Linked DNA regions of Homo sapiens. The protein of the gene in region 4 purifies or fractionates together with the protein of the main gene of each other region. This does not show direct contact. Each region holds a gene or a part of one and is shown on either strand. Other genes may lie near its edges.

What was found.
Region 1: the proteins of MMP3 (region 4) and CDH24 purify together in Homo sapiens (co-immunoprecipitation; one large-scale study listed by IntAct). This does not show direct contact.
Region 2: the proteins of MMP3 (region 4) and LFNG purify together in Homo sapiens (co-immunoprecipitation; one large-scale study listed by IntAct). This does not show direct contact.
Region 3: the proteins of MMP3 (region 4) and CLN5 purify together in Homo sapiens (affinity purification with mass spectrometry, with the first as the bait; one large-scale study listed by BioGRID). This does not show direct contact.

Annotation. Positions count from the first base shown.
Region 1 is NC_000014.9:23,047,521-23,051,020, reverse strand, and holds part of CDH24 (cadherin-24), read left to right. Parts: intron 1-1,077; coding exon 1,078-1,199; intron 1,200-1,282; coding exon 1,283-1,394; intron 1,395-1,745; coding exon 1,746-1,994; intron 1,995-2,541; coding exon 2,542-3,041; 3' UTR 3,042-3,500. UniProt on the Homo sapiens protein: Cadherins are calcium-dependent cell adhesion proteins. They preferentially interact with themselves in a homophilic manner in connecting cells; cadherins may thus contribute to the sorting of heterogeneous cell types.
Region 2 is NC_000007.14:2,522,774-2,525,851, forward strand, and holds part of LFNG (beta-1,3-N-acetylglucosaminyltransferase lunatic fringe), read left to right. Parts: intron 1-1,921; coding exon 1,922-1,970; intron 1,971-2,445; coding exon 2,446-2,545; intron 2,546-2,640; coding exon 2,641-2,794; intron 2,795-2,911; coding exon 2,912-2,997; intron 2,998-3,078. UniProt on the Homo sapiens protein: Glycosyltransferase that initiates the elongation of O-linked fucose residues attached to EGF-like repeats in the extracellular domain of Notch molecules.
Region 3 is NC_000013.11:76,998,581-77,002,080, forward strand, and holds part of CLN5 (bis(monoacylglycero)phosphate synthase CLN5), read left to right. Parts: intron 1-1,877; coding exon 1,878-2,389; 3' UTR 2,390-3,500. UniProt on the Homo sapiens protein: Exhibits palmitoyl protein thioesterase (S-depalmitoylation) activity in vitro and most likely plays a role in protein S-depalmitoylation.
Region 4 is NC_000011.10:102,835,035-102,838,204, forward strand, and holds the end of MMP3 (stromelysin-1 preproprotein), read right to left. Parts: intron 2,368-3,170; coding exon 2,264-2,367; intron 1,733-2,263; exon of another isoform or gene 1,404-1,732; intron 1,193-1,403; coding exon 1,092-1,192; 3' UTR 767-1,091; downstream 1-766. UniProt on the Homo sapiens protein: Metalloproteinase with a rather broad substrate specificity that can degrade fibronectin, laminin, gelatins of type I, III, IV, and V; collagens III, IV, X, and IX, and cartilage proteoglycans.

The sequences.
Region 1 (3,500 bases), on a different chromosome or scaffold from region 4:
TGTCTTCTCATTCTCCTGCCAAATCCTGCTCCTACCCGCACCCAGACATCACCTAGCAGTGCTGGGCCCTTACCGCAGGGAAGAAGTAGACCTCCTCCCCATCCTGTCTCTGGGGTATCCCAATCCTTTTAGCCAGGCGATCCACTCAGCCTCCCCTGCCCATGCTGCATCCTCAGCCCCTTTCCCCAAGGCTAGTCAGCTATCCCTCTGCCTAGGGGAAAGACTAAAGGAATTGGGAGACCTGGCCTAAGAGAGGTGACAGGGAGACACACTTTGCATTCTCTCTTGGAAGGCACTGGCAGTGAGAAGCAAGGTAGGGTAGTGGTAGGGAGTCACCTGATGAAGGGATGGGTAAAGATGGGGCCTGTGTCTGGCTGTGGTACCCAGGCTGGCCTGGGCTCTGCACCCTGTAGATCATGCAGCACCTTTCTACCCAAGATAAGTGATGCTCACTGCTGTACTACAGCCTCCCAGACCTCTGATGGGATGTGTGTGTGTGTGTGTGTGTGTGTGTGTGTGTGTGTGTGGTGTGTATATGTGTCTGTCCACCCCACTGGTGCTGTGCATGGCCTCTATGCATGAAAATGCATTCTATGGGCACTGGGTGTTGTCGGGGGATGTGGCACCACATTCACTATGCATATCAAACATTTGCTTCATGTACATTGCATTTGTTTTAAATGTTGAGTGTACATTGGATATATGGTATGAATGTGTTTTGTATATTCATGGCTGTTGTCTGCATGCAACTCGTATGCACCTTCCCTCTGTCTTTCATTTATGCTGCATGTGCCCTGCATGTGGGTTATTGTATATGTGTATCATGGGTGCGGCATTCCTGTTGAATGTCTATTGTGTATCGCACATATCTTGGGTACTACATGAATATTGTATGCACTTGGTATTGTTCCATTCATTCTGCAACATTGTTTTCTACCTGTACATTACATGCATATTTCATGTGTTTCTTGTGCATGCTATATGCTTCATGTGGCATCCATGCCCATGCACCACATATGTTACGTGTAAACTGTGTGGTGTGTGTGTGGCGTGTATGTTTTGGTGTTCTGCCTTCAGACAGTTCTGCACAGGCCTCGCGCGTGCAAGTGGCCATCCAGACCCTGGATGAGAATGACAATGCTCCCCAGCTGGCTGAGCCCTACGATACTTTTGTGTGTGACTCTGCAGCTCCTGGCCAGGTGAGCAACTGAGGCAGAGGGGTTGGGACGTCCAGGCCTCCAGCAGCCCACTCCATACAAGGCCTCTCTCTTCTTCCTCCCAGCTGATTCAGGTCATCCGGGCCCTGGACAGAGATGAAGTTGGCAACAGTAGCCATGTCTCCTTTCAAGGTCCTCTGGGCCCTGATGCCAACTTTACTGTCCAGGACAACCGAGGTAGGTGGCCTCCTACAGCCATGTCCATACCTGCCTCTGTCCCCTTCTCCTCCTCCTCCACCCCTAGCCCAGCCTGCCTGACCCCTGCCCCACCTGCCTCGGCCTTCTACCCAACAGAAGATGGGTGTGGACTTGTACTCATTCGTTGGCTCTTTGTAAACCTTCCCCATGGGAAGCTGGCTCTATGGGCTGGACCTATGGGCTGGCTCTATGGGAAGCTGGCTCTATGGGCTGGACCTATGGGCTGGCTCTATGGGGGGCTGGCTCTATGGGAAGCTGGCTCTATGGGCTGGACCAACCCTACCTGGAAGGTGTCCCAGAAGATACCTCAACACCTTCCCTCTCCCACAGATGGCTCCGCCAGCCTGCTGCTGCCCTCCCGCCCTGCTCCACCCCGCCATGCCCCCTACTTGGTTCCCATAGAACTGTGGGACTGGGGGCAGCCGGCGCTGAGCAGCACTGCCACAGTGACTGTTAGTGTGTGCCGCTGCCAGCCTGACGGCTCTGTGGCATCCTGCTGGCCTGAGGCTCACCTCTCAGCTGCTGGGCTCAGCACCGGCGCCCTGCTTGCCATCATCACCTGTGTGGGTGCCCTGCTTGGTGAGTCAGGCCACAGTGGTACATAGCTGTGCGATCTGGGCCTGCAGGGGTGTGGAGAAGAACCAGGCCTCTGGACACAGGGAAATCCACCTTAGGGCTTGAACGACCCTCATACCTGGATTTTCCCACCACCTGATGCATCCAAGAGAAAAGCTCTGGCCTCTATCCGTGACCTGCCAATCCATAATGACAATGACAAGCCATAACAATGGTTTACTGAGCCCCTACTCTGTGCCAAGTATAGTGCTGGGCACGTCACTTGTGATATTTCATTTTATTATGTCAACAACCCTTAGAAGTAAATATATTTTCCCTATTCTCCACATAAGTAATCTAAGGGGCAAATTGAGGCTTCAGAGAAGTCTAGCAACTTCCCATGGTCACATAGCGAGTAAGGGCTGAAGTCAGGATTCAATGCAAGGTTTGCTAGATGTCAGCCCCTAAGCACAGGGCTTCTGTCACCTGATGGGTCAGCCTTTCACATGGAGACAGGCCGCCCGCTCCCGGCCCTGCTGGCTCAGGGCCTGTGTGCGCGCCTCTCGCGCAGCCCTGGTGGTGCTCTTCGTGGCCCTGCGGCGGCAGAAGCAAGAAGCACTGATGGTACTGGAGGAGGAGGACGTCCGAGAGAACATCATCACCTACGACGACGAGGGCGGCGGCGAGGAGGACACCGAGGCCTTCGACATCACGGCCTTGCAGAACCCGGACGGGGCGGCCCCCCCGGCGCCCGGCCCTCCCGCGCGCCGAGACGTGTTGCCCCGGGCCCGGGTGTCGCGCCAGCCCAGACCCCCCGGCCCCGCCGACGTGGCGCAGCTCCTGGCGCTGCGGCTCCGCGAGGCGGACGAGGACCCCGGCGTACCCCCGTACGACTCGGTGCAGGTGTACGGCTACGAGGGCCGCGGCTCCTCTTGCGGCTCCCTCAGCTCCCTGGGCTCCGGCAGCGAAGCCGGCGGCGCCCCCGGCCCCGCGGAGCCGCTGGACGACTGGGGTCCGCTCTTCCGCACCCTGGCCGAGCTGTATGGGGCCAAGGAGCCCCCGGCCCCCTGAGCGCCCGGGCTGGCCCGGCCCACCGCGGGGGGGGGGCAGCGGGCACAGGCCCTCTGAGTGAGCCCCACGGGGTCCAGGCGGGCGGCAGCAGCCCAGGGGCCCCAGGCCTCCTCCCTGTCCTTGTGTCCCTCCTTGCTTCCCCGGGGCACCCTCGCTCTCACCTCCCTCCTCCTGAGTCGGTGTGTGTGTCTCTCTCCAGGAATCTTTGTCTCTATCTGTGACACGCTCCTCTGTCCGGGCCTGGGTTTCCTGCCCTGGCCCTGGCCCTGCGATCTCTCACTGTGATTCCTCTCCTTCCTCCGTGGCGTTTTGTCTCTGCAGTTCTGAAGCTCACACATAGTCTCCCTGCGTCTTCCTTGCCCATACACATGCTCTGTGTCTGTCTCCTGCCCACATCTCCCTTCCTTCTCTCTGGGTCCCTGTGACTGGCTTTTTGTTTTTTTCTGTTGTCCATCCCAA
Region 2 (3,078 bases), on a different chromosome or scaffold from region 4:
CTGGTAATGGCACCCACCTCCGAGGGCTGTCAGGGAGAGGAAGGGAGAGAATCTGTCTTTGCACTTTGTTCTCTGCCCAGGGGAGCTCTGTTATGCCCATTTTACTGAAGACGAGACTGAGGCTCTGAGCGGCAGGTGAGGCCTATAGCCCAGCAGCGCCTTTTTCCTCCCCTCCTGGTGGCTCAGGTGTCGGGAGACAGTTCGACCGGCACCCCCGCACCCCATAGCCCCGCCTTCTCAGATGCTGTTCTAGAGGCCTCCCTGCTCCCTGAGCTGAACAAAGGTGACTTTAATCTCCGTAGCCTTGGGCTGGGTTTTTAGGGCACCACCAAATCTCGGGAGAACAGGCCTCCCTTGATCTCATTAAGAAAGCATTTTCCTTTTAACCCAGCGGCGCAGTGGAGCGTCTGCAGGGGCTGGCCCTCCGCCTCCCACGGCATTCCTGGGCTGAGATTCTGGGGAGGCCAAGGGGCTGGGTGCGAGTCTGTGCGTGTGGCTGCCCTGGGGTGTCTATGGGTGCTGCAGGAGGGGTGCATGCATGGAGAGGCGGAGACCCAGCCTGCCACCCCCTTAGCTCTGGGCCTCACCCTAGTGAGCATGTGCCCAGGGCTGGGTCAGGCTGGATAAGGATCTGAGACTACCAAGGTGTTCCAGGGCCTCTGCGGGACCTGTGTGTACAGGGAAGGAAACTGAGGCTGGGTGGGCATCAGGGGGTTGTCCCTTGGTCAGAGCATTGCCCGTACACCCTGGGTTTTGCACTCAGCCATGCCAGGGTGCGCCGGGCGGCACGCGCTGGGCGGGCCGGGCAGAGGAAGGAACATTCCTCCCCGTGTGCCGGCAGGCCCAGGCGGGCGCCGGCGACTCCTGGCCCCGCCCTGGCGGCCCCCTCCTCTTCCGCAGAGCGCTCCTGGCAGGGGGCGGCCGCGTGCTGGCACAGGTGGGCTGTGGCCTTGGGCAAGCCTGGGTTTCCTTGCCTGAGCAGTGGGAGGGGTGCTGGGCTGCATGGGTACTGGGGGCCCCTGACCTGGGGGCTGGGGACACCTGAGGTTTCCTGCCACAACCCTGCTGACCGTTGGCAACTTTGCAGAACTTCAGGGCTGCTTTGGCTCAGAGTGGGTAGCTTGTCCTGCAGGTCACCCAGGACAGGGGTGCTGGCCCAAAGGGCAGCTGTGGGGTGGCTGCAGTGCTGGTGGCTGCACCCTACGCGCGGGACCTCATGCCCAGCCTGGCCCGGTTAACCAGGCCAGCTGTATGGTAATGGGCGGCGCGGCCACTCTGCTTAACTCGGCCGAGTTAAGGCCGGCCCGGCGCCCCTCTCCCGCCAGCCCAGGACAAAGCTGGCGGACAATGCCTGGTGATTCATCCTCCCTCCAGGCCCTTTGTCCGCCAGGGCTTGGCAGCCGCCCAGCGAAGGCCTTTGTCCCCAACCCCGAGTGATTGAGACTTGGCTTCCCACAGCCGACCTCCTCCGCCTGTCCCTCCCGCCACCCCGCCTGTCCCCCGCCTTTCCAGCAGCCTCCAAGTGGCAGGCTGGGTGCTGTGTCAATAAGGGTGTGTGCCCTGCCAGGTGCACGGGGCGGGTCGGGAACCGGTTACCTGGCGGGCGGGCGAGGCGCACCACCTGGCTCGTGCCTCACCGCGCCTGGACGACCTTGGGTGCAGCTGTCGAGGTTGGGGAGTGAGGCCCCCATCCCCCACCCCCAGGGCGAGTGAATGCGTGAGCTCTGGCCCAGATGGCACTGAGATGGGGCACTTGAGCCCTTCTCAGCACGAGTGGGGAAACCAAGGCCCGGAGAAGGGTGGGTGTCAGTGTGACGCAGCTGCAGCTGCAGCAACTCCAGGGCGCCCCGTCCGGCCCCCACAGATGGCCCTGGGGTGGGGATGAAGGGCTGCCTGCTGAAGGCCGATTTTCTCCTTCCAGACGTTCATCTTCACTGACGGGGAAGATGAGGCCCTGGCCAGGCACACGGGTGAGCCCTGGACTTGGGGCGGGAGGGGGCCCAGGCCTCCATCCAGAGCCGAACGCTCCCCCTCCAGTCTCCCTGCCCCTCTGGGCCGAGAGGTCACCAAGGGCAGGACAGGGAGGGCAGTTTACTCATGGGGTTTGCTCCATGCCCCGCCCCACCACTCGGGCCCCCCAATTCTCATGCAAATGAAGCCCATTCAGCCCCCCGGGTCCCTTTGAGCCCAGGCAGCGGCAACAGGTGGCGGGTGCTGGGAAAAAGCTGCCTGAATGGGCGGGGGCGGGGCCGCCCTGGAAGGGGCTGGGCTGCGGGAGGGTCCACAGGCCCAAGCCCCGAGCTAGGGTGGGGGAGGCTACGGCCGCCGGGCCCAGCTTGAACTAGGGGGCTTTTCTCGAGCCCCTGGGCCCTGTGGCGTCCCCCAGGCCAGGCCCCTCTCTGGGAGCCGGCTCAGACCTACTCACAGCCGCTCCCCTGTCCACAGGCAACGTGGTCATCACAAACTGCTCGGCCGCCCACAGCCGCCAGGCGCTGTCCTGCAAGATGGCCGTGGAGTATGACCGCTTCATCGAGTCCGGCAGGAAGTGAGTGTGGCCCCGGGGGACCCCCATCTCCCTGCCCGAGCCTGGCAGCGCCCGCCCCGGCATGCCCTCCCCCGATGGCCCTGCCTTGTCCTCAGGTGGTTCTGCCACGTGGACGATGACAACTACGTCAACCTGCGGGCCCTGCTGCGGCTGCTGGCCAGCTACCCGCACACGCGGGACGTCTACGTCGGCAAGCCCAGCCTGGACAGGCCCATCCAGGCCATGGAGCGGGTCAGCGAGAACAAGGTGGTGAGTGCCTGCCCCTCCCAGTCCCCCACGCCCACGCGGAGCGCACACCCGGAGTGGGGGTGGGACCGTGAGGGGCAGCAGCGCCTGGGTCTCAGGACACCTTCTCCCTTCTCCCAGCGTCCTGTCCACTTCTGGTTTGCCACGGGCGGCGCTGGCTTCTGCATCAGCCGTGGGCTGGCTCTGAAGATGAGCCCGTGGGCCAGGTGAGTGCCCTGCACAGGTTAGGCCAGCCCGGTCCCAGGCTCCTCGCCACTGTGGGGCCTGGCTTAGTTCATCTTCCCAGC
Region 3 (3,500 bases), on a different chromosome or scaffold from region 4:
TACAAATGATTTGGAGGTATGTTAACTCACGGTTCAGTGGAGAGGATAAGATACTCATTCTCTGCAAATAAGGAATTGAGGCTCAGCCAGGTAACATGACTTACTTGCCTCTCAAGGTCAAAGAGCTGGATGTAGCAGAATCAGGAATAAAACTGAGGTCTTTTAAATGTAACAAGGATCTGTTAGCCGAATGCACCATGTTGTTTTCTAATATTTCCTGCTACTTTCTAATCAATGTGCCTTAAACCATACCAACAATACAAAAGTCCATCATTAGCGGTTCTTTCTTTCATTCCAGGCCAGTTCACACCTTTCCCCATTTCCACCTACATCGTTATCTGAAAATCCTTCCTTCTGACATAAAGTCAATGATCATATGAATAAGTGATCACTATTTTTTGTAAAATAGTTCAAAATATGCCAGTACTTAAATCTTTTAAGTCATTTATTTGCCTTGTGAATAATCCTGTGATTGACAAAATAGTGTTTTGAAGCATTCTTGTCTCATAAGGATAGTGGTGGCATTTGAAAGTTGAAGAATGCTAAGAACAGTATCCCCAGTTCTAATACAACAGGCTTTATTCTGTTCTACAATTTTAATTCCATAAAATTGATAAAGGCAGTCACTCTATTCATTTTACAGAACATGAAGTATTTATTTTATGGACTCAAGTTGGAGTAACCAAAGAGGTTTGCACACAGTGACAGGATGCAGTGTTTGGGGCCCAGTTCTATTAGGCATTATAAATGCCCAAGATGAGAGTTGTAACCATGCAGAGTAGTGTTTTCTGAATATTTGGAAAGATTCTTCTGGTCTAGTACAAGATGGTAGAAGAGAGGGTTAGCCATCCTGGAGTATGAACTCGGCCTAAAACATTTCCAGTTTAGTTGATTTGTTGGAAGGACTTAACGTGGCAGGTGGAGAGGTCATCAGCAGCATCCCAGCAACTCCAAGTACAGGGAAGAAAGAAACGTACCAAACACACAAGGTGGATGGGGTATGGTGCTTGTTCTCATAACAGTAATAGCCAGCCTTCTAGAGCAGTGGCTCCTCAGGCAGCCATTCATACTTTATGTGTAGCATGCTTTGCAACAGTGAAGCTCCACATTTCCCACACCTCCATTTTCCTTACACTGTCTTTGCCCATTCTGCTTTTCCTCTTTCGCAATTCTTTTTGTGCTTTCCTTTTCTCTTTTGCCTCTGAATCCAAGATTTGGTGAGTTGGGTAGAGAAAGAGAGCTTCTGCATTTGTATAATTTCGCTTTGACTATAGCTTAAATGATTATAGAATTAGTATGTAAGATGACTTCTCCTTATACACCTATTATATCTAATGTTTATAATTCAGAAATATCTTGTGCCTTGAAGAATGGAATAAAATTGGCTGAGCTTGGATTCCTGTTGTGAAATGCAGGTGTGGAAATTCAAAACCATTGTTTACTCAGGCATCCAGTCTTAATCAAGTTAGAACATTTTACTTAAAATTAATATGATTAGGCCAGCCATGGTAGCTCAAACCTATAATCCCAGTGCTTTAGAATGCTGAAGCAGGAGGATCACTTGAGGTTGGGAATTTGAGACCAGCCTGGGCAATACAGCAAGACCCCGTGTTGCCCAGGCTGGTCTCAAATTAAAAAAAAGAAAAATTAAAAAATTAGTTGGGTTTGGTGGCCAGCGCCTGTAGTCCCAGCTACTCAGGAGGCCGAGGTGGGAGGATCACTTAAGCCCAGGAGGTCAAGGCTGCAGTGAGCTGTGATGTTACCACCGCACTCTAGCCTCGGCAACAGAGGGAGACCTGTCTTAAAAAAAAAAAAAAAAAAAATTAACATGATTAGCTTTGTTCACTAGGTGACTTTGTTTTGTTTTTTTAAACTAGGAAACATGTTCAACCAAATGGCAAAGTGGGTGAAACAGGACAATGAAACAGGAATTTATTATGAGACATGGAATGTAAAAGCCAGCCCAGAAAAGGGGGCAGAGACATGGTTTGATTCCTACGACTGTTCCAAATTTGTGTTAAGGACCTTTAACAAGTTGGCTGAATTTGGAGCAGAGTTCAAGAACATAGAAACCAACTATACAAGAATATTTCTTTACAGTGGAGAACCTACTTATCTGGGAAATGAAACATCTGTTTTTGGGCCAACAGGAAACAAGACTCTTGGTTTAGCCATAAAAAGATTTTATTACCCCTTCAAACCACATTTGCCAACTAAAGAATTTCTGTTGAGTCTCTTGCAAATTTTTGATGCAGTGATTGTGCACAAACAGTTCTATTTGTTTTATAATTTTGAATATTGGTTTTTACCTATGAAATTCCCTTTTATTAAAATAACATATGAAGAAATCCCTTTACCTATCAGAAACAAAACACTCTCTGGTTTATAAAACACCTTAATTCTACTGCTCTTTTTTCTCCAATCACCAGCATCTGTTTTTCAGGGGGTGATTTTACTTTTGTGAATTCCTTAGCCTTTCTTCCTTGGTGCATAAAGTTAAAATGCACATCAGCAGAATTGCTGCATATTAACATCTCAGGACTCTTCTCTTGTAAAGAAGCTGAAATTCGTACTATATTGGCCAAAGTGAGCGAGTTAGGTGATCTTGGTTTCAATTTCCGAGCCTTTGTTAATATGGAGAATTATGGTTCATATCAGTTATGTAGGACCTTTGGACCCAGGGTCCTACAGATAGATATGGTGTGCCCAGATTTTAAAAATACCTTCAAAAATAAAAAATACATTCAGTGACATTTTCATGGTGGGAGCTCTTCTTTCTGATATGGCAGTTACACTTTTTCACTTAAGTGCTTTAGTTTAGACTAACTTTACAACTTCTATAACTTTTGGAACCAAGTTTAGTATAGTCTGATTACATTCCATTCACCTAACTTTAGACATTCGTTTAGACACCATAACTGGAGTGATTGTGCTTCTAGATGTGGCAAATCCAGTGTTAACACATATTTCTGGCTGAGATTTTGGAACTAGCTAGTAACTGGCTTGTGTTCTTTAAGCATACTAACATCACTAAATCTTAGGATTTAGGATTGCTGTAAAGATGTAAGTTGTGTATGTTTGGCAGGTCACATTGAATGGCAGTGATAATGATTAATCAAAGAACAAATGTCATCCTTGATCTTGCCTAATGTAGTTTATGTGCCAAACTTTCCAGGGTTTTGTAGTCACCTAGATTTTAAGCTGATAGCATAGTGCTTCAGCGGTTCTTCTAACCGGGGTATGCAGGAACATGGCTGCAGACACGTTTGGGTAAACAGGCACCTTCTGACTTCTTCATTGTTTCCTGTAGTTCTCCCTCTTCCCACAAAGCTGTCAGCGCAGTGGAAGAGGTTGCACTTCTCCGAGAGAGGACAGGTTTCTGTTAAGATCACCAAGTAGCTGTGCTTTAATTAGAGCCAGACAAGCTTTCAAGGTCCTTTAAGTATTTGATGATCAACTGAACACGTTTCTATTCAAGGAGAAAACACCATTCAGTAAGA
Region 4 (3,170 bases):
TTTACAATTGCGTATTTATATTTGTGGTTATCTACACGTGTTCTTTTCGCTGGATTATAATCTCGATGAGGGCAGGGGCCTGTGTCTATTATTTTCATATTCTTATGCCTGCAACCTAGCATAATGCCTGGCATATGGAATATGATTTGTAAATTACTCTCAGATGAATGGATAAGTTAAAAACGGCTCTTACCATGTACGAGGCATTGTGCTAGAGACATTAGTTATGGATGATAAACCAATGTTAGAATCGTCATTTGCCAATGGGCATTTACATCCAGGCACAGGCAGATACAAAATGAGTACAAGAGTATATTTTACCATGTGAATAGGGTAGATATGAGGAAGTTTGCTTGCTAGGTCAGGGGAGGGACCTGCACTGAGGGAATTTATAAGTAAAAGGAAAAGATGAAAAACAAGTCTGATTTCCTCACCCTGTAAAATGAGATGTGCAAACAAGGCAATTTGCTATGATTATAGGATTCCCTTCACAGTTTTTCCTAGAGCCTGCTCTACAATGTCACAACCCCTCTAGATTTTTTGCCTTAGGTATGTCAGGACACATAAAATGTCTAGGTGGTAGAAATAAGCATCCTGTTTGCAGGGCTCATGAGGAGGGCAAGTGGTAGATTCTCTGCAGTTCTGGAACCCATTGTGAACCCCAAGCCATGGAGACTCTAGTCTACTGGCTGAGCATGCTCAGCCCATAAAGTGCCCAAATTATGAGAACAACTTGCCCTTGAAACAAACAAACACAACAATAAGATAAAATAACTGACAAATCGTCTTTATTAAATAAGCAAATAGTCTACACAGATACAGTCACTTGTCTGTTGCACACGAGTGCTTCCCCTTCTCTTGGGAAAGATCACTCTATGTGACAAGGTGCAAGCTAAGCAGCAGCCCATTTGAATGCCCTGTAATAACATAAAAATGACCGGCAAGATACAGATTCACGCTCAAGTTCCCTTGAGTGTGACTCGAGTCACAGCACAGGCAGGAGAAAACGAACATTTCAATTCACAGAGACTTAGGTGAAGAATTATTAGCTTCATTTAAAGTGCCCATATTGTGCCTTCTACATATCTCTTTCAACAATTAAGCCAGCTGTTACTCTTCAAAGTGTGTGTCACTTTCTTTGCATTTGGGTCAAACTCCAACTGTGAAGATCCAGTAAAGAAATAAAAGAACCCTGCAAATACAGACAAGGGAAATAGTAAGATATTTTTCCAAATAAAGACATTTGACAATATACAAAACTCAGAATCATAGAGAACTAAAAATAGAAAGTGTTTATAGAGCTTTACTTTATGTCAGGGACTATGCCAAGCTTGTTACATGAATTTATTTTCATTTATTTCTGCAACAACCCTATGAGGTTGTATGTCTAACTCCATTTACAGATTGAGCAAGTTGAGGTTGAGACAGATTTCGATGCTTCCTCAAGGTTACTCAGCAAGGAAGAATGGAGACAGCACTCGGTGCCAGCTCTGTCTGAAAACACAGCCAGATTCCAGGTTACAGGGTTATTCTGCTTCCGATCAGATAAATTCTCCACTTGCTTGGAAACTCTCATCACCTATTTCTTTCTTCCCCAAAAATCCTCCTCCCTTTTCCCTGCATTGCAGCCTAGGAAGCACAGCAACTATTTCAAAACACCAGGGGACCCTTTAGTGCTCTGCAAACATGGTGATCAGGTTACCTTTCAATAAAGATCATCAGCCTCCACTTCCTTACCTTGAGTAGAAAACAAAATCTTTTTTTTTTTTTAAACTTTGGGCACATGGAAAGGTAAGTATTTGCAAATGACTGGCATGGGCAATGACTGACAACTCAGGAAAGACAGACAAAAAATCTCCCTGGGAATTAGTAGCAGCAATAAGATAGGGTGGAGGAGAAGGCCAGCTAACCAACATTAAACCTGGCCACACCACTTGATGGGATTTTTATGCTAACATGGTAATCTGAAAGTCGAGCTTGACTCCACATGTTAGCTCGAGATGTAAGTGACACTGGAGCACTTTGATTTTATATGCATGTATAAGATAAAGTAGCGAGATTTGTGTAATTATCTTTATGGTTCCAAACAAGTTATTTTGTGAAGTAGTTCTATAATGAGTACAAATGTAGGCGAATCAAAATTTTGAGAAGGGAACTGGCCCTAAGAAACACTTGTTATTAAAAAGTTTCAATGCTCCTCTTCCCTCTGATATCATAAAATGTTTCAAGTGCTCTATGGCCAACACAGTAAGTATCCTCTTACCAAATTCTTCAAAAACAGCATCAATCTTTGAGTCAATCCCTGGAAAGTCTTCAGCTATTTGCTTGGGAAAGCCTGGCTCCATGGAATTTCTCTTCTCATCAAATCTGTACCAAGTAAAAGAAACAGCTCAGCATTGCATAGAGGCCATGTTACCGAACATCTTAGATCATGTTAGGTTTAATGTGGAATTTTACTAAACTTTATAAATACTGCAAATAAATGCCAAGCATATTTGGGACTATAGAAATATGTGACTTTAATGGTACTGTAAAGAGTTCTGAAAGCCATATCTCCATCCGGAACAGGGGCCGCATCCTGCTGTATGTAGCACATGCTGTTTGTCATCATATTTCTTAAGCCTGGACAGAAAGAACCTTAATCATCTTTCTGTCACAAAGACATGAAAGTGTGAACATATATATAAAGTGAATTGAATCAACATCTAAAATGCAATTTTAATTCCCTACCACAATTGGCCCATATATGCCTGCTGTCCCCTCCCCTGCACATCTAAATCTTCTCTGGTGGCCTCCTGGGAAAAGGGATTAGGATAAGAAGCAAAGCACAGTAAGTGTGTTTTTAGCCCATTGGCTGGATATCAGATGGTCGGCCTCGATGTCTCAAAGTCTGGCCAAATGACCCAGGAATCAACCTGTCTGTGAGTGTTGGGTTGTATCCATAAACTGGACTGCTATTGATCATCATCTCTTAAATGAGCCATCATTATCAGGTAGAGGTGACAAGTGGGTGAGGTTAGAGGTAGCCCTTGAAAATCATATAGTAGTGTTAGGAAGACAAAACAAACACACAATGAGACAGTGACAAACACACAGTGAGACAGTGAGCCAAACTAAAAGACAATGGGAAGGGAACGCTAAATTGCGGTCTGGGTTCTCAGAACATTTTC